Linked DNA regions of Homo sapiens: region 1 is linked to region 2. Evidence: fine-mapped expression QTL. A gene starts in region 2. The other region holds a variant in brackets. All regions are shown on one strand. Distances are between the middles of the regions. Region 1 overlaps LOC124903900 (a long non-coding RNA gene). Region 2 holds the start of SERINC2 (serine incorporator 2).

Region 1 (10,318 bases), 49 kb after region 2:
TTTCTGAGAAATTGTTCTTTTGTTTTAAATGTAGAGAGATCAGTAGTAGAATGTAGATAAGGCAATCCATAGAGCATCTCATAAGGGGACAGGCCTGTCTTTTGGGGGAGCAGTTCGGACTCTTCACAGGGTAATATGCCTTCCTACTTTCCCTGATGAAGGTGGATGCCAGAGAGTATGATATCCCCATGTTATATCCAGTATCTGTGCTAATTTCTTAGTGACATGTGCTGTGAAATGAGTCCTATTATCTGAATCACTGTTTTCTATTAATCTAAACCTGGGTATAATATTTTTAACTAATGCCTTGATTATATTATTAGCATTTGTACTTGAAAAGGGAATAGCTTCTACCCAATGAGTAAGGTGATCTACTATTACTAATAAATACTTTAGACGACCAGTTGGAGGCTTCTCTGTGTAATCGATTTGGATACTTTGGAATGGGCTTAAGCCTGGACTCCTTCCCCCAAGTGGTAATCTTTTACTAAGCAATTGTCTGTAACCTGTTTGGCCGGGGTACACATTTCTATGCACTTATAAACTCTGAGGACTGTGTTACACATGGCTTGGGGCCCCCAGTGGGTCTCTTGATGTAGTTGGGACAAGATTTCCCTCATAAGGGGTTTGGATAACATTTCTCTCTGGTCTAGCAATATCCATTTTCCTTCTGAATTTTCTTTAGCACCATTTTTGTTCGTTTTTAAACCAAAGAAAGCCAAACACCACTTTATATTTGACAATGCTTCCTGTATGATTTTATACCAGATAAGCTAAATTTTACCTTTATATTAGTGTGCTATTAATGTTAAGCTCAATTTTAATAAAATCTTGTAGACATTATTTATCCAATATTAATGTCTGACCATAAGGTAAAATTTTTACTCTTTTTAACCCTTTATGATTTTTGTTAAAGAGCAGTTTAGTGCTTTAAGAAAAACCTGTTGTGCTTTTTTTTAATGTCCAGTTCGCAGAAAAACTGGATGATACCCCCTTAACTTTAGCCAATATGTTTACACACAGAATTTCCTTTACAATTAACGTTTCAAAGCTTGCTTAAACCTTCAAAACACATTTTTTTAACCTTTTAATGTAGGTAAAAATCCACATTATTATACTTTCTTATACTCCTTTTACCAAAAGTATATTTTACTTTCCTTACACACCTTGCATATAAACTGTTTCTTCAATAGTTTTACATTCAGGAGGCCTAATTACTTTTAAATTATACAACATTTCTTGCATAAATTCCCCTTTATAACATTTTTCACAACTTTCACAGATAATCTTCAACATGCCTCAACTTTCTGACTTGTTGCAAACATCCCTTTCTTTAAACAACCAGTTAATTTATTTTAGGACAAGAATTTACCATATAAGATTCTTTTTATATAAATTCTCCTTTTTTAAATGTCAGAGATGATAACTAGTTTTCTCCAAAGCAAACTTCCTTCATGTCGGTGGACTAGGCTGCCTAAGGCCACAAGATTAGAAGTTAGGATAATACATGTTATACTGCTAACTTTTAGCAAATGTGGAAAGTAAAAAGTTCCTCTTCCTTCAAAGTTTCCCTTCTTGTTAAAGAATAAATAATAAATGTTAGAAATAATAGTTTCTTTTAAAGACTAACTTCCTTCAAAGCCTTCTTGCTTTTTGCTAATAACCCTTTATTAAGCCCTATCCTATGTAGATGTTAGATATAAGGAAATAAGTACATCCTATGTCCTTGTACTTTAACCAAGATATTGGCATGTCCCAGTTCACAGCCTATGCCCCTTTCTTATTTGGAAATGTTATTACTTCTCTAAGTCCTTTTGCAAGCAACTTCCTCTTTTCCTTTTGTTCTTCATTGCCTTTACCTATTTAGGAAAGTTTTAAGTTGTTAGCCAATCGGGTTTAGCTTAGACTGTGACTGTTAGCCAATCGGATTTAGCTTAGACTTAGACTCCAAGCAATGGAGATAGGACACAGCAGTAAGGATCCAATGTGTAAGGGATAAATATTCCTGATTTGTTTGTTCAGTGTGCTCTCATGGCAAGATTGCTGATAAGTAGCACCCTTTCTGCAGAAAGTAAAATTGCCTTGCTGAGAAAACTTTTTGTCTGAATGCTAGTTTTTCCTTGTGGCACTGAGGAATAAGCATTTACTTCTAACAGTTCTGGAGGCTCCTCTGGGATTCCCATTCTCCTTTCAGAAGGGGTCTTTGGTCACCCCCTCAGGGAGGCATACCCCACTGCCTTGTTGTGGTGGCCTTAAGGGCTGGAGATCAAAACCCATCCTTTGCAATGAATAAACCCGGGCTCTTAGCAACACGGGGAAAGAAGGGCTTGCAACACTGCTGTGACCAGGTAATTCTGTGCACATACCAAGGTAAGAAACATCACAAGGGGGTGACAAAGTATTTCCTTGATGGTCAAAATTCTGGAGGTTGAGTGTGAGTGTGCATGCGTGAGTATGGTGTGAGTGGGTCCTCTCTGCAAATTCTGTAATCATTTCATATGGCTTAGAGGTAAGAGAGGGCAAAACAAAAGGAAAGGAGTGAAAGAGACCTCCAGAAGGTGAGGGGGAATAGTTAGAATCCTCCCTGGGAAAAGAAGGGTGAAAAACCTCAAGCACGTGAGGTTGTTTGTTTGTTTGTTTGTTTGTTATTTTGTTGCTGTTGTTGTTGTTTTTTGAGATGGAGTCTTGTTCTGTCACCCAGGCTAGAGTGCAGTGGTGCGATCTCCACTCACTGCAAGCTCTGCCTCCCGGGTTCATGCCATTCTCCTGCCTCAGCCTCCCAAGTAGCTGGGATTACAGGTGCCCGCCACCATTCCTGGCTAATTTTTTGTATTTTTAGTAGAGATGGGGTTTCACCATGTTAGCCAGGATGGTCTCGATCTCCGGACCTCGTGGTCCACCCGACTTGGTCTCCCAAAGTGCTGGGATTACAGGTGTGAGCCACTGCGCCCGGCCATACGTGAGGTTGTTTTAAGCAAGCCTCTGGAAAACGGGATAAGCAAGAAAACTCTGGGTCGAGAGGTTGAGTCTAACTGGTACTCAGTATAGGGAATATTTCTAGTAAAACAGGGAAGGGAAAGAATGCAGATGGTCAAATCCCCCCCACCGATAGTCCTTTAGGGCTTATGTTAAAGTATTGGAAAGACAATGAGAGGACTAAACTCAAGGGAAAGCAGCAAATGATAAAGTATTGCTGCTTTATTTGGACTAAAGAGCCAATCCTCAAGCCCACAGTTTTCTGGCCAAAGTTTGGGTTGGATGGGGACTGGGTTTGTCAACTCCTAATAATGTATGTTAATGACAAGAGTCCTCTCTCACAAGAAGAAATAGACTATGCTCTGTGCTGGCGGCAGGGGCCGTTCTTCTCTACCCGCTAAGAATAGATGGGAAGGAACTAGAAGGTAAAAAGGACTCAGAGGCTGTCTCATCTGAGAACAAAGTTTCTACTTCTAAGACATCCACGAGTAAGTGGGACCCTCTAGACCACCATCCCCCACTTCTCAAAAACCCACCACTCCCTCCTCAAGCAATTGCCGCCGCCCCAAACCCCATCCCAGACCCAGTTCCAGACTCTCCTCTGGATCCTCATACTCAGGTTATTCCTCCCCCATACAACCCGGACTCCTGGAAGTTATTGTCCCAGGGACCCAAGTTTTGTCAGTCTGAATATCCTTCTTTAAAGAAAGGACTTCAACGGGAAATACAACAATGTAGAAAGGATATTCAGAGTCTTCCTTTCCCCCTCCCCACTTCTAAGGATTCATCTTCAAAGTTCTTTCTTTTAAGGGAGGTACCACAAGGGGGGGCAATTTGCCTTGTAAATGCTCCCTTAACTGGTTCCGAAGTCCGAAGTCTTAAAAAAAAAGAACTCAAGCCATTATTAGATGATCCTTATGGAGTGGCAGATCAAATTGATCAGTTTTTAGGCCCGCAGTTATATACCTGGGCTGAATTAATGTCCATCCTAGGTATCCTCTTTTCAGGGGAAGAGCAGAACATGATCCGCAGAGCTGCTGTGGTGGTCTGGGAGTGTGACCATCCTCTGGGCCAAAATGTTCTGGCAGCAGACCAAAATTTCCAGCCAAGACCTGGAGTGGGATAACAATATTGCAGCCCACAGGGATAACATGAGAGATTTAAGGGAAATGATAGTTAGAGGAATTTGGGAATCAGTGTCCCGACCTCAAAATCTCTCTAAGGATTTTGATATACAGCAAGAAAAAGATGAAGGGCCTATGAAGTTTCTAGACAGAGTGAGGGAACAGATGAGAAAATATGCTGGTTTAGACCCAGAAAGCCCCTTTGGGCTAGGATTGTTAAAGTTGCACTTTATTATTAACAGTTGGCCAGATATTGCAAGAAAATTGCAAAAACTGGAAAATTGGAAGAATCGGTCAATAGAAGAGCTTTTGAGAGAAGCCCAAAAAGTATATGTAAGTAGAGATGAAGAAAGGCAGAGACAGAAAGCAAAAATCTTTTGACAGAGTTCACCAGGACAAATGATACCAGGGGCTAAGTTTAGACCCACACCTGCAAAGTTTTCTAGAGAAGGTGAAAGAAGAAAGTCAGGGAACTCAGGAATGCAAAGAGAAAGAAGGCAAGATCAGTACGTTAAGGGAGAAGGTCAAAGTAAGTGCTGTAAGGGCTGTGGATGTGAAGGTAAGGAGGAAAGACAAAGGGGCCCTGGGCTTGGGAGAGAGGAAGGACAAGACAGATGTTACAAATGTGGAAGACCAGACCATTTTAATAGGTAATGTCCGGAATTAGAAAAAGTAGAAGAAGCTCTTCCACTCATGACTACCTTTGAAGAGGAATAGGGGGGTCAGGGGCTCTGTCTTTTCTATTTTGAGTCCCACCAGGAACCCTTGATACATTTAGAGGTGAGACCCAAACATGAATTAATCACCTTTTTAATTGACTCAGGAGCTGCTTGCTTGTCTGTTTGTTTTCCCCCAGCTGATTTAACTTGTTCTACAGAGGAATTGCTAGTTTCTGGGGTAAAAGGAGAAGAATTTAAGGAGAAAGTTTTAGAAAATACAGAAGCAAAATACCAAGATCAGTCAACTTGTATTCAACTTTTGTTAATTCCTGAAGCAGGAACCAATCTGTTAGGGAGAGATTCAATGTTAAAACTAGGTATAGGTCTGCAAGTTGGCCCAAAGGGTGTTCTAACTTCCTTAAATTTGCTTACCACAGCAGATGAGAAGTCCATTCAT[C/T]TCGATGTCTGGCCAAGGGAAGGAAACTGAGGAAAGCTACGAATTCCTCCAATACATATCAGGTTAAGGACTCCAGGGGAGGTAGTGAGAAGAAAGCAATACCCTATCCCTTTAGAAGAAGGGTAGGGTTAAAGCCTGTAATTGAGAGTCTTATTAAAGATGGACTACTTGAACCTTGTATGTCCTCATACAACACTCCAATTTTACCAGTCAAAAAATCAGATGGGTCATACCAACTAGTGCAGGACCTTACAGCTATCAATCAAATAGTCCAGACCACTCATTCTGTTGTACCCAACCCTTACACCATTCTTAGTAAAATTTCACACAGTCATCAGTGGTTCACAGTAATAGACTTAAAGGATGCATTCTGGGCAGGTCCCTTGGCTGAAGACAGCCAGGATATATTTACTTTTGAATGGGAAGGTCCCCATTCAAGATGGAAACAACAGTATAGATGGACAGTTTTACCCCAAGGATTTACAGATTCACTCAATCTTTTTGGTCAAATCTTAGAGCAAGTATTAGAAAAAGTTGTTGTCCCAAAGCAGCTACGTTTGCTCCAATATGTGGATGATATTCTTATATCTGGAGAAGACATAGAGAAGGTAGCTGGGTTTTCTACACACGTTCTTAACCACTTACAGTTTGAAGGGTATGGGTCTCAAAGAGAAAGCTTCAATATGTAGAACCTGAAGTTAAATACTTAGGCCATTTAATAAATGCAGACAAAGGAAGAATAGGACCCAAATGGGTCAAAGGAATTGTGTCTTTGCCCTTGCCTCAAACCAAGCAAGAACTCAGGAAATTTTTAGGGTTAGTTGGATACTGCCATTTATGGATTGACTCATATGCATTAAAAAGTAAACTTCCATATGAGAAGCTAACTAAAGGAGAACCTGATCTCTTCATATGGACTTCTGAAGAGGTTGATCAGGTTGGGGAGTAAAAGGAAAGACTCATAACTGCTCCTGTCCTGGCCCTACCCTCTCTAGAAAAACCATTTCATCTTTTTGTTAACGTAGATAATGGAGTGGCTCTAGGAGTGCTTACCCAAGAACATGGGGGCTGCCGACAGCCAGTGGCCTTCCTGTCAAAAGTTCTAGATCCAGTCGCCTGCAGATGGCCTCAGCGTATTCAATCCATTGTGGCCACGGTGATATTGGTTGAAGAAAGCAGGAAATTAACTTTTGGAGGATATCTGACAGTGAGTACACCTCAACAAGTCAAGCTATCCTAAGCCAAAAGGCAGGAAGATGGCTCACTGACTCCAGAATTTTAAAATATGAAGCTATCCTATTAGAAAAAGATGATTTAACCTTAACTACAGACAATTCACTTAACCCAGTGGGTTTCTTGACAGGGAACCCACTGCTAAAAAGGGAACACCTATGTCTAGATTTAATTGACTACCATACGAAAGTCAGCCCAGATTTAGTAGAAACCCCCTTTAAGACAGGGCAGCTTTATTTACAGATGGTTCCTCCCAGGTAATTGAGGGAAAACGACATAATGGGTATGCAGTAATCGATGGGGAAACTCTCAAAGAAGTTGAATCAGGAAGATAACCCAATAGTTGGTCTCCCCAAGCCTGTGAGCTATTTGCACTTAGCCAGGCCCTAAAATACTTATAGAACCAGGTAGGAACCATCTATACTGACTCTAAGTATGCTTTTGGGGTGTCTCACACATTTGGAAAAATTTGGGCCGAACGGGGCCTTATTAATAGTAAAGGTCAAGATCTTGCTTATGAAACATTAATTGTGTCCTGAATAATCTTCAGTTACCAGAGGAAATAGACATTGTCCATGTTCCAGGACACCAACACAACTTTTATTTTGAAAGTTGAGGAAATACTCTTGTGGATCAAAGAGCCAAGCAAGCTGCTGTTTCCTCTGAGACACCATCTTTCACTTAACTCCTTGTCTTCCTTCTCCCACTGTAGTTCCTATTTTCTGTCATACTGAGAAGGAAAAATTAGTAAAAATAGGAGCTCAAAGGAATTCAGAAGGGAAATAGATACTCCCAGACCAGAAAGAAATATTATCTAAGCCTCTTTTGAGGGAGGTTTTATCTTAACTACATCAAAGAACTCACTGGAGCCCCAAGTTATGTGTGATGCAGTTCTCAGGGTTTATGGGTATATTGAGATTTATACTTTAGCAAAACAAGTTAAAGACAGTTGTCTAATTTGTAAGAAAACAAATAAACAAGCCCTAAGAAAATTACCACTTGGAGGAAGAAATCCAGGACTAAGACCATTTCAAAGTGTCCAAGTTGATTACGCTGAAATGCCCCCACCTGGTCAGCTAAAGTATTTATTGGTAATAGTAGATCATTTCACCCATTGGGTAGAGGCTATCCCTTTTTCAAGTGCAACCGCTAGTAATGTAGTTAAAGCAATAATTGAACATATTACACCCAGGTTCGGACTAATAGAAAACATTGATTCAGACAATGGAACCCATTTTACTGCACATATCATTAAAAAGTTGGCTCAAGTACTAGACATAAAGTGGGAATATCACATTCCTTGGCACCCATCCTCCTCAGGGAGAGTAGAAAGGATGAACCAAACCCTTAAAAGCCACCTAACTAAATTAGTCCTAGAGACCCGGTTGCCATAGGCTAAATGCCTTCCTATTGTTTTATTAAGGATTAGAACCTCCCCTTGGAAAGATGTTGGCCTGTCCCCTTATGAAATGTTATATGGGTTGCCTTACTTATATTCCACTGCTCATGCCCCCACATTTGAATCAAAGGATCAGTTTCTCAGAAATTATATACTTGGTCTCTCCTCTACCTTTTTTTCACTTAAAACCAGAGGTCTTCTAGCACAGGCACCACCCCTAGAATTTCCAGTACACCAGCACCAGCCTGGGGACCATCAAAGGACGGAAAGAAGCAAAACTCGAGCCAGCCTGGGAAGGACCCTACCTCGTGCTGCTAACCACCGAGACTGCCATTGGCACAGCAGAAAAAGGATGAACACATCACACCCAAGTCAAGAAAACGTCATCACCTTCGGAATCGTGGGTCATTGTTCCAGGATCAAGCCCTACCAAATTAAAGTTAAGAAAAGCTTAATCTATCTATCTTTTATTTTTCTTTTCTTCCCTTTAACTACTCCCCATCTTATTATTAACGTAACTAGATCTAACTCACCTCAAGTTATTACTTCTGATGCCTGTTTAGTTATACCCTGTGGAGATTTGCATAACCAAAGACAGTTTACTACTTCGGAAAAATATCTCTGTCCCTCTTGGACTTCCTCAGATTGGGAAGACATATTGAGTTCCTGCAAGGATACTAGTAATCCAGAGAATACTAGTTGTATTAATTGGTGGGAATCAGACTCTTGTCCCTCTAAAACAGAATCTCTATGTTCTGCTTGGTCTAATGTCCTATGGAACACTAAAGGTCTAAGATAGACTGCTTCCACGGGTCTTTGTCAGTCCTTAAAACCATATATTCATTTCACCAAAAGAATTACTCCTTCTAGCTGTCAATATAACCAGTGTAATCCTATACAGCTTACTATTACTATTGCAACATCTGAAAACTCTTCCCCTTCATTAAGTCATATTTATGGTATGGGAGCTGACATTTCAGGAAAGATAGTAAGGGAATTTTTGAAATATGCTTTATTGCTTCTTCAACCTCTATCAATCACTCCTCCCAGACACAATGACAAAACCAAAATCTCCGTAGTAAAAGTAGAAAACCTAAGGCAAACCATAGCAATTGAGACAGGGTATCAGGATGTAAATGCCTGGCTAGAATGGATTAAATATTCCATCTGCACTTTAAATAAAAGCGATTGTTACGCTCCTACACATGGTAGGCCAGAGGCCCAGATTGTCCCCTTTCCACTCAGATGGCCCTCTAATCGACAAGACATGGACTGCATGGTAGCTGTTTTTCAAAATCCTACAGCCTGGGATAATGAACTGTGCCAAACTGTCTCTCTGCTATTTCCTGAAGTGCAGCATCCTGCGGGTCAGCCCCCGCAGGCCATCCAGCCTCCATCTTCCAAGAGCAACTTTACCTCATGTCTCCAACGACAAGGGGAAAATTTGGTGTTCCTTGGAGACTTAACAGGATGCAGTGAGGTCAGGCACTGCCAAGAGCTGACCCATCAGTCCGTCCTTATTCATCCCGGAGCAGATGTCTGGTGGTATTGTGGAGGACCTTTACTGGACACTCTGCCAAATAATTGGAGTGGTACTTGTGCTCTAGTTCAATTGGCTGTCCCTTTTACCCTGACATTTCATCAACCAGAAAAAGAAAAAACATGACATCGTAAAACAAGAGAAGCCCCTTACTGGTCTTTCAACCCCCACGTCTATTTAGATGCAATTAGCATTCCACAGGGTGTACCAGATGAATATAAAGCTAGGGATTCCAAATAGCTGCAGGGTTTGAATCTATCCTCCCATGGATAACAGTTAATAAAAACAAAGATTGGAAAAACTATATTTTTTACAATCAACAACGGTTTATTAATTACACTAAAGATGCTGTCAATGGAAGAGTGGAACAGTTAGGGTCCACTAGCCAAATGGCCTGGGAAAACAGAATGGCTTTGGATATGATATTAGTTGAAAAAGGTGGTATTTGTGTTATGATTAAAATCCAATGTTGTACCTTCATCCCAAACAACACTGCTCCCAATGGCAGCATAATGATGGCCCTACAAGGCCTTACTGCTTTACCTGAAGAACTAGCTAAAAATTCTGGAATTAATAACCCTGTTTTAAAATGGCTAGAAGGGTGGTTTGGCCAATGAAAAGAGACTGTAGCCTCAATTCTTACCTCTTTAGCAACTGTAATAAGTATACTCCTTCTTTTTGGGTGTTGTGTTATACCATGCATCCGAGAGTTGGTGCAAAGGTTAATGAAAATGGCTCTTACTAAAACCTCCCTTAACTCTACTCCACCTTATTCAGAGAAGCTTTTTTTTTTTTTTTTAAGAGACTCAGGCAGAACAACTAAGCCAAGACATATTAAGAAAGTTTGAAGAGGAAAAACTATAAAATCAAGAGGGGGAAATTGTGGAAAGTAAAAAGTTCCTCTTCAAAGTTTCCCTTCTTGTTAAATAA
Region 2 (10,318 bases):
TCTCTGTGTGGGCACTCACATGGGTGTCAGCCTGACCCACCCACGTGTGCTCACATCCCTGACACGTGCACATACATGCAAACCCATACACGCACCCTGCATAGTAGGGGCTCACAGACGGAAAGAGCCAGGCCACTTCTTTTTTTTTTTTTTGAGACGGAGTTTCGTTCTTGTTGCCCAGGCTGGAGTGCAATGGTCTGATCTCAGCTCACTGCAACCTCCACCTCCCGGGTTCAAGCGATTCTCCTGCCTCGGCCTCCCAAGTAGCTGGGATTACAGGCATGCGCCACCATACCCGGCTAATTTTGTATTTTTTAGTAGAGGTGGGGTTTCTCCATGTTGGTCAGGCTGGTCTCAAACTCCCGACCTCAGGTGATCCGCCCGCCTTGGCCTCCCAAAGTGTTGGGATTACAGGCGCGAGCCACCGCGCCCGGCTGAGCCAGACCACTTCTGTCTTTTAAGGCTCCTGCTAATTTAAAAATGAAGAAAGTCCTAAATAGGATGTTCACAACTGTGGTATGTTTTTATTTAACAAATTAATGTTTTTTAACACACACATGCACCCACACACATCCAATGCAGTGCAACTGAGAGACTCACAAGATCGTCACAAGAATTATAAAAAATGTGATTTCACATTGCTGTGTGGTCCAGTGATGGGATGTAAGTTTCAAATGGCATGAAGAGCATTCTGTTCTTCCCATCTCATCCATAATTCTCTGGGGCTAGACATCCAGCCCACTTTGTGTACTCGTTGTATTATGAAAAGTATCAAGCATCCAGAAGGGTTGAAAGAATGGTACAGTGAGCACCCACATACTCAGCACCTGGGGACTACAATGAACATTTTGCAGTATCTGCTTTATCACATATCCATTCCTCTGTCCAACCCTCTGTCCATCTCTCTGCACAGACAGCCCTCTGCCTATCCATCTACCTAGCCATCCATCCCTCCCTCCCTCCCTTCATTCCATCTCATTTTTGGATGCATTTTTGAGACTTCTGAATGTGAGGCCTGGGCCAAATGGCACTCTCTTCTCTCCTTTGCAGTAACAGGCCCTGCCACACACACAAGCATACCCCCACCTCTACATGTAAACCCCACCTGCGTACACACCATATATGACTTACCCATGTCCCCACATTTATACATGCACATTCCATGCACATATTCACATAACCACACACGCTCATCTGTGCACATATACCTAAACACCCCCCCCTCCCCAACACACACAAACTGCCCACATATACACTCACAGAAGACCCTGGACATCTGTAAGGAAAGCATCTGGAGACCTTTGGGAATCCTCAGACCTGTGACTGTCGTGGAGCCGGTGCCAGGTCCTGGCTGTCTCCTCCATACATTTCTGGCAAGTGCCAGAGGCTCCCTTGAGCTACCTACCTCAGATGTCCTACCTTTTCCACTCTTACCCATCTTCTCTCTCAACCCCTAGTCACTTCCTACAAAGGAAACGGATTCCTTCCAGAGTGTTACTGTTATGGGAAGCAAATCCCACAGACCATCCACTCCATGCAGGCTGGGACTGTGTCTGCCCTATCCACACTGCATTCCCAGCTCCTGGCCCCCTGTGGCTAAGTGTTGATTGGAAAAAAGTCACCAGAGCAGCACAGAGGCACATACACTGGGCAGCCACAGGGGTACCTCCACCCCACACAGTTACGTCCATGCACACAGAACACCCTGTGTGTGTGTGCATGCTCAAGCTTGCATCACTGTGTGCCTGCACACATATGAACACGCATCGTGTCTGCCTGTCTCCATACTTTCCAGATAGAGTCCCTTCCAGGACCTGGGTCCTTTCACAAAATCACCTAATACCACTGTGGGCTCATCTGCTGACATGTGAGATCCAGATGTGGCCCCATGACTGCTCAGGGCTCCTGGCTTGGCCCTGAACATCTGGGCGCAGGGGTTTAGAGCACCAGCTTTGGAATTGCATTCTCCTGAGAAAACCTGGGTTCCACCCTGGCTCTGCACATGATCACTGTGCATGTTCCCCGTATGATTTATGTACAAGTTACCTAACTTCTTGGAGCATCAATTTCCTTATTTGCTAAATGGGGGCAATAGTTCCTACCTTAAATTCATCTTAAAGGAGATAATCTCAGCAGAGTGCCTGGCATGTTGTAAGCTCTTAAAAATGCTTGCTATGAATATGATTATTGTTACTTTAGCCTTTGCTCTGAAATCCCATGCACGCTTTGTGAGGAAGGACAGCCTTGGTTGGGGGGTGTTTATGGGGAGAGCAGAGTGGATGGTGCGTATGTGAATACCTCTCCCCAGATGCTCCCCCAATCCCAAGCTCTCATTATCTTATATGCATATTCATAAGGGATGGCCCTGCTCTGTAAATGGGTCAGAAGCAGGAAATAGAGGCCAGTACAGACAGCGAAGCCCAAGGGATAGGAGGGCTCAAAGCCGGCACACATCTGAGTCCTCATGGACGGGAGGATGGTAAGAGGGGATGGGGAGAGAATGGATTGGGGGCACTGAGGCGGGGGCAGGAGTTCGTTCCTATGTTGCAGATTTGAAAACTCAGGCCCAGTGAGATCAGATTAGAGAACCTTGGGGTGGGTGGTCCAAGAAGTCAGAGTCTGCTTCCTTTGGGAACTGGAGTTGAGCATCTGTCTGGGCTGGGTGATGGGCACAGGGCAATGGACCAAATGACCCCTACATGTTTATTTCAAGGGACATGGTTTACATAGCATTGGGTGGAGAAGCTGAATCCTGAATTCCAACCCTCCAGTGAGGCTCAGAGTGGTTGGGTGACTTGCCAGTATCACATAGCTGCTGACTGTGACTGTGCTTTTGGGGGTGCAAGAGACAGAGCTACTCTGGCCCCATGCAGGAGGTTCAAATCTGGGAGTAAAGGCTGATGGGCTGGCCAGGACACCAAGAAATGAAGCTCTTTATCCATGTCCTCACTTCATCTCCTCAGTAGTCCCCTCAGATAGCTGGGGTAAAAAAACTTATCTTTATTTTACAGATGAGAAGCATGAGGCTGAGAGAGGAGGAGTCACCCGGACCCAGCCACACAGTGAGTTATGCCTTCCATGCTGGGCGTGTGAGAGCCCAGCCGGCCTTGGTCTTGGGCAGGCAGGAGGCCAGGACAGTGGCAGCATATTACCTTGCTCTGGAAAATTTTAGCCTGAAGTCAGAGTGGCTATCCCTTTACACATACAGTCATCTTAATCCCTCGTTCCTTGCAGATAACTGCTTATTTCTGAGAGTGTCTTTGCAGATGCTCACACATGCTCTGTGAGGTTAAACAGAATAACCCTACCTATTTCCGGGAAGGGGATGGACGGACACCCCTTGTGGGGTGAAGTGGCCCCCCAAGGATGGCATGGGGCATGGTCATCTGTGGCAGAACAAGAATCCCAGGGGTTGATCCTCTTGGTCTTGGGTGCTTTCTACTGTTCTAGGTCATGGATAGGGAGGGGTTGGGGGTGAAAAATTCAGCTCTTAGAGCAGAAGTGTCCAAGGGAGCTGACCCTGGGACGGGAGCATGTGAGGAGGGCTCACTTGAGACTGCTTGGTGGCATTTCAGTCTAAAGGATTTCCGTGCAGAAGATGACTGTGTAGGGTATGTTTTTGGATCAGACTGTCAGTCACAGAAGAAGGAGGAAAGTGGACTTATGGTAAAAGGTCAGACATTCATCCAGTAAGCATTCACTGCTTGACTGTGTGCCAGGCCCTGTACTGTGCTCTGGGTAGGAGAGGGGGTGGCCAGAGAGCAGACCGTTCTTGGGTGGCTCACAGTCCCCTAAAGGCCTCGGGTTAGGGAAGGACTGAAATATTGCTGGACAGAAAAATAGGAAGACTAGATATTGTCACCTCTACTTTTTCAAGGGAAGCAGTAGGACATCAGGGTGAAAGCCAGGCCAGGTTGCCTTTCAGCTCTGTTTCTTCTGAGCTGTGTGGCCTTCAGCAATAGTAACAACAACCACAGTGATCACAGTCAACGTTTATTCGACGCTTGATTTACATTTCGCGTGTCACTACTTCTTTGTTTCTCGGTTTCCTCATCTGTAAACGAGTGGGTGGGGAATTAATCGACTTCTCAGGGCTGTTGTGGGGCTCAAATGGTACCACGGGGGAAAGTTGGGCATGTGCTCGGGTTGTTTGTGAGGCCATAAGGGAGGCCCATATTGTTTGGAGGCTTGGGGGAATCAGGAGGATGTTCATTCCTAATGGAACCAGGTAGTGGGTTGGGGGTGAGGGTGGTGGCTCTCTTCACTGAGAGGTATGGCATGTGAGCAAGCTTCAAAGGGGAGAAAGAGGGATAAGGAGAAGGACCTTTAAGAGGAGGGCATCTGCCAGGTGCAGTGCCTCACATCTGTAATACCAGCACTTTGGGAGGCCAAGGCAGGAGGATTGCTTAAGCCCAGGAGTTCGAGACTAGCCTGGACAACATAAGGAGACCTCATCTCTACACAAAATTTTTAAAAAATTAGCTGGGTGTGGTAGTACACACTGGTGGTCACAGCTACTTGGGAGGCTGAGGTGGGAGGATCACTTGGGTCCAGGAGGTTGAAGCTGCAGTGAGCCATGATTGGGCCACTGTGTTCCAGCCTGGGTGACAGAGTGAGACCCTGTCTCAAAAAAAAAAAAAAAAAAAAAAAAAAAGAGGAGGGCATTGTGTGGGCAAAAGTGCGGAGGAGGAAAAGTATAGGGTGTGTTTGTGGAACAGTCCTGGTGCAATTAATGGCTAAGCCTGGCGCCCAGTGAATCAGCCAAGGATGCAGTCAACCAGCTCTTTGGCCCTGGGGCCAGCTTCGAGGCACAGAGACTTCTTTCCCTAACATTATCTTGTCCAGAGGTGGCTGAGGACAGGGCTAAGGGTGAAGGGAGACTAATTACAGAGCCCTACTTCTGGGTCTCTCACACCTACCCCTGGAAAGCCATCTGTCAGGAATGTGGCCGCCCCTCCCCACCTTCTGACCTCCTTAGCTAGGGACCAGTTTGGGCATCCCTAGGGAGTGATAAGCCACCAAGCAGGGGTGGCTGTAGGGAGTGTGTAGCTCCCAGCAGGCTGTTGGGAGTCAGTGGAGTTTGAAGAACAGATGGAGAGAAGGGAGGATGGGTTTAGAGTGAGAGGCTGGGGTCTTAGAAGAAGCAGTAGGTGGGCATGGTGGCATGCACCTGTAGTCCCAGCTACTCAGGAGCCTGAAGCAGGAGGATCACTTGAGCCCAGGAGGTCGAGGCTGCAGTGAGCTATGTTTGCACCACTGCACTCCAGCCTGGGTGACAGAGCAAGACCCTGTCTCTTAAAAAGGAAGAAGAAAACAGTGACGATGGGGGCTTACATTTGTCAAGCACCTACCATGTGTTGTAACCACCCTGTGAGGTATGTATCCTCACTTTACAGACCGGGAAACTGAGGCTCATAGAGGTGCAGTGACTTGCCGAAGTTTCTTTATCCAGTCATTCAGCATTCAACCTCAGCATCTACGTATTGAGCAGAGGCCCTGCGCCAAGCACTGAGGAGTCAGCGGTGACCACCTCTTGGCTTCTGTTCCCAAGGGTGACAGTGTCCTGGGGTCACACGGGCTCAAACCGAGGTCGATTTCCGAACGCTCACTTTGGAGCAGGATGCGAGCCCGGGCCACGATTGGGTCAGGTTGCGCCGCTCGCGTGGCCGCGGGAATCCCCGACCGGCCCCTTCCCTAGGGTCCCTCCTGGCGCACCTGCCCCAGGTGAGTCTGGGGAGGCCCCGAGCGCCGCCGGAAAGCGTCGAGCGGCTTCGGTAGGTGGGGCGGGGCCGGGGCGGGGCCGGGGCCGGGGAGGGGCCAGGCCCGGCACCCGGATCCCGAGGTCCGCGCCCCGCGCCCGGCGCCGGGCGCCCGAAGCCGGGAGCCGCCGCCATGGGGGCCTGCCTGGGAGCCTGCTCCCTGCTCAGCTGCGTGAGTCCCGACCCCGGCGCCCGCCCGCGCGCGCCGCCCGTTCCTGCTGCGGGCCCTCACTTTCTTCTGTTCTGCTCCGAGTAGTTTCTTCTTTTTCCTTCCTGCAAACTTGTCTTTCTGGGCCGGTGCCCCGCCTGCTCGCCCTCCTGGACCTTCACTCGGCACCCGGATCCCGCTGCCCCCGTCCCCCTGCTCAGTCCTGGCCGGCAGGCGCCGGGCAGCTGCGGTCCCGGCTCGGGTTTCCGCGGGCAGGAGGGGAGTGCCCTCGGCGGGCGCCCTCCTGGGACCTGGAGAGACTAAGCCTGGAGCCCGGGGTCGGGGCAGCTCTGTGGGCCCTCGTCGCCCCACTTGGGGCGGTCCTCGGGGTGGCCTCTGTCCCCGTCCCGGACGCCCTGGTTCTCTGTGTAGGTCGCCCGGGCCCCGTCCCTCCTGGCGAGTGCCCTGCCCTACCCCTCTGGCCGCCTGCCAGTCCGCCTGTTCCTGTCGCTCGGGCTCCGCCTGTCCGTTCGTATTTGTCTGGTTCCTGTCTGTGTCCGTCGTTCGTCCGACTGTCTTTGTCCGTCTGCTGTCTTCTGTCCGTCTGCCCGTCCGCCCGTCCGTCCCTCAGTCTCTCTGCGGTCCCTTTACCGTCCTCAGTCTGGCTCGCGCTGCCTCTCAGGCACTTCCCCAGCTCGCCCCGGATCATCTGGGCCCCAGCGCGGAGACTGGGATGGGAGCGGAGGGAGCCCCGGACTTTCTTAGCTGCCCTCGAGTGAGGCGGGTGCGGGTCGTCACGGACCACCGGGCGGAACTCTGGGTTGGGAGAGCAGGAATCGAGGGAGGTTCGGGTGTGCGCGGGGAGTGCCCGGTCGCGGGTTCGGGACCTGTGGGGAGGCCAACCTCTGTTCTGTAGCTGCAGCCGCAGAGGGGAGGGGCTCCAGCAAGACCCCGGCTGGGAGGCCCGTTCTCCCTTCCCTTTCCCCAGCCCCCCTCTCCTTTCCTCTTCCCCTCATTAAATCTGAGGTTCATTCAGGCAGCCCCCTCCCCCTCTGGCCCCACACAAAGAGGCCCTGAGAGGGAGAAGGGGCTGCAGCGGCTGCTGAATCTCGGGACTCGCTTTCCTTTGTCCCTGACGGGTTGTGTGTGTGTGTGTGTGTGTGTGTGTGTGTGTGAGAGAGAGAGAGAGAGAGAGGAGGGGGTGTAGGGGAGAGCTGAGGGTCTAGAGATTTACTTTACAGCCTTTTTCTGAGAATGAGATCAGCATAGACAGCACAGAGAGGCAAGAGAGCCTCTCGCCTCATTAGGCCTCCATTTTTCGTGTGTGTGTGTGCGTGTGCATGTGCGTGTGCAGGAGGAGGAATCAAGCTGGTGCCTGAAATCCCTCCCAGCCCAAAGAATTCAAGGTTTGGGCCAGGTCTCTGCCAACAAGGGTTTGCTTCCTGGTGAGGGAGGCAGAGCTTCCACAGTGGACCTGATTTCCATCGGTTGCACCTGGTGAGGCACAGGCCCTGCTGGGCTGGCCTGGGGGTGGAGATGTTGAGGGGCAGCCTGCCAGCCCTGTGTGCCTTGGTCACCCCATCTGGCAGTTGACAGTAACAGGGCCTTTCTCACAATGCTGTTGGGAGATGAGGCACAGTTCCTGGCATATCGTGAGTGCTCCTTGTGGGAATTATTGCTAACATCAAGGAAAGGTGGGTGGAGAATTCCATTTGGAGACAATGCAAAGCCAAGTGCTGGTCTCTGAGTTACAGCATTCTACAATGCTGAGAGCAGATAGGACTGCTCAAACCATCTGTTTACAGATGAGAAGACTGCCACCCGCCCGGAGAAGATAGCTGACTTTCCTAAGGTTGCACAGGGAAAGGATGAAGAACTGCATAGTTAGGATCAACATCTGATTCCTGGTCCAGGCTTCTGCCCACACCTTCCCTCCCTTCCCCACATCCTGGCTGCCTGAGGCACAGGGCTGGTCCAGGGAAGAATTGGGAGATAACTTAGTGAGTAATATCAGCAAGGGACCCGGCCCTCCCTTCAGTGCCATCCCCTTGGGGTTCTGGCCTCCGACATTTACTGAGGTTCTGGCCTCTGACATTTACTGAGCCAGGTACTGTTCCGAGCCCCTCACCATGCCATCTCATTGGCTCTCCCCACCTCCTCTACCCTATGACATCGTTAGCCCATTTTACAGATAACTATCCCAACACTCGCAGCGTGGAGCTGTCCAGGAGTGGCCTAGGCCCCATACAGTAGTGAGCAGTATGTGTATGTGTGTGTATATATATATCTCCTTCCATTTAATCCTCACAAAGACCCCACTGGGGCAGTTAATATTGTTCCCATTTCACAGATGAGGAAACTGGCTCAGAGAGTGAAGGTGACTTCTCCACAGCCACACAACATTAAGTGGTGTAGTTGGGCACTACTGGACACCAGTACCATCCTGTTGCAGTGAAGAGTTGCTGCACAGGAGTGAAGTTCTATGTGGGGTTTCTGGGCAACTTCAGGAGGGATTTTTTTGCATGCATGGGTCAGTGGGGAAGATTTTTGTATCCTCCCAGGTGTGACTCATCTGCTGATTGTGCTTCTCAGCATTGGAACTGGGCTGAAGGTGAACTGGGCTGAAGGTGGGTCCTGCTTTGGATGGGGAGGTAAGATGGGTCCACAGGGGATGGGGCCACCAGGCAAGCCGCCGGCACATGATGACTTGGCTGTCTGCAAAGATTTCAGGAGGGTCTTGCACATCCTAGGGAGTGTGAAAGGCCTTTGGGTCAGACCACTGGACTCGGATCCTAGCTTTGCCTCTTCGCATCTCTGTGACTGTGGGCAGTCACTTTGCCCATCCCCTTGTCTGTAAAGTGGAGAAAACAATGGTGTCTGCCCCTTAGCCTGTTGTGAGGATTAAATGGGACTGAGGTTAGCACAGCTGCATATTTAGCACCAAGCTGGTGTGCAGTGGCCGGTCCATAAACACCCCACAGTAGTACATGACTCAAGACTACATGCAAGGAAGTGCTGAAGCCAGTGAGACCCAGGGCTGCCTAACTATAGAGCCTGGGCTCGGAGCCCCTGTACTCTCCTACCCCAGGAGATCATTTTACAGATGAGGAAACTGAGTCCCATGGAGGGGAGGAGAGACTTGCCTGAGGTCAGATTACAAGCTGTGGCAGAGCCAGCATTAGGACCTGCATTCTTGGCACTGCATGGGGGAAGTAAGTGCACCTTGGGACATTTCCGGCTGACCTCTTCTCTGCTGTGTTTTGACTAGCCCTGGGGCGGCTCAGCCAGTTACGGAGTTGTTCATGAAGGCGGCAAGGTGCATGCTTGCCTGGGCCAGTTTTGCATTTTTTAAACTGTGACGAAATACATGTTAAAAAATTTACTCTTTTAACCTTTTATTTTAGTCTTCAAGGAGTTTGTATGTTATTTCATTTTATTTTATTTTACTTTATTTTTTTGAGATGAAGTCTTGCTCTGTTGTCCAGACTGGAGTGCAGTGGCACCATTCTGGCTCACTGCAACCTCTGCCTCCAGGTTCAAGTGATTCTCCTGCCTCAGCCTCCCGAGTAGCTGGGATTACAGGCGTGCGCCACCATGCCTGGCTAATTTTTGTGTTTTTAATAGAGACGGGGTTTCACCATGTTGGCCAGGCTGGTCTCGAACTCCTGATCTCAAGTTATCCACTGGCCTCGGCCTCCCAAAGTGCTGGGATTACAGGCATGAGCCACCACACCCAGCCTGTAATTTATTTTAGAAGACATGTATATTAAAATGGAGATCTAATAAATACAACCCTAATAAAAATTAATCCCAAACGAATGGCATTGTCAGAAGGAGTAGTGCCAACTAAGGCACACGGTAACTCCAGAACATCTTCTTACTGTCAGCCCTCATCTGGATTACTGACAACAGCCCCTGACTCTCCTCCCTTCCCCCAAAGATACCACACACTACCCCATGACCTGTCTTTTTGTGATCAAAGTGATATTTCTAAAATGCAAATCTGCTGTCATTCCTCTTCTTTCGCAATCATTCCCCATTGCTTTCAGGGTGAAGTCCAGACTCCCTGGCATGGCATACAGGGACATTGACCACCACTTCCGTGACCTCTGTAGCTTTTCTCACCCTTTCAGCTGCCCTGAAAATACAGTGTCCCTGTAGCTCTGCATGTGTCATTCTCTTTGCTGGGAATACCCTTCTCGCCTCTTCCTGCTCTTCTTTGAAAACTCCCTGCCCCCTCCCTTTTAAAAAAATTGAGGTAAAAGATGCATAACATAAAATGTACCATTTTAACAATTTTTAAGTGTAGCATTAAGTACATTGACACTGTTATGCAACCATCACCACCATCCTTCTCCAGAACTTTTTCATCTTCCCAGACTGAAACTCCCACTAAACAGTAACTCCCCAG

What was found. PIP is the estimated chance that this variant, and not a neighbour inherited with it, causes the effect.
Region 1: its variant is fine-mapped to the expression of SERINC2 in monocytes after Pam3CSK4 (Quach 2016, PIP 0.95).

The regions. Positions count from the first base shown.
Region 1 is chr1:31,456,416-31,466,733 of GRCh38, forward strand. The region is part of intron 1 of LOC124903900 (a long non-coding RNA gene); the gene reads right to left. Among named protein-coding and RNA genes, the nearest start is that of SERINC2, 48 kb to the left of the region's middle. The variant C/T (reference allele first, on the strand shown) is at 5,217.
Region 2 is chr1:31,407,374-31,417,691 of GRCh38, forward strand. It overlaps SERINC2 (serine incorporator 2), which reads left to right and starts at 5,840. Exons shown (of 10, transcript NM_178865.5): 1 at 5,840-5,931. The coding sequence starts at 5,893. RefSeq lists enhancers at 5,588-6,088, 7,359-7,907 and silencers at 5,655-5,724, 5,805-5,864.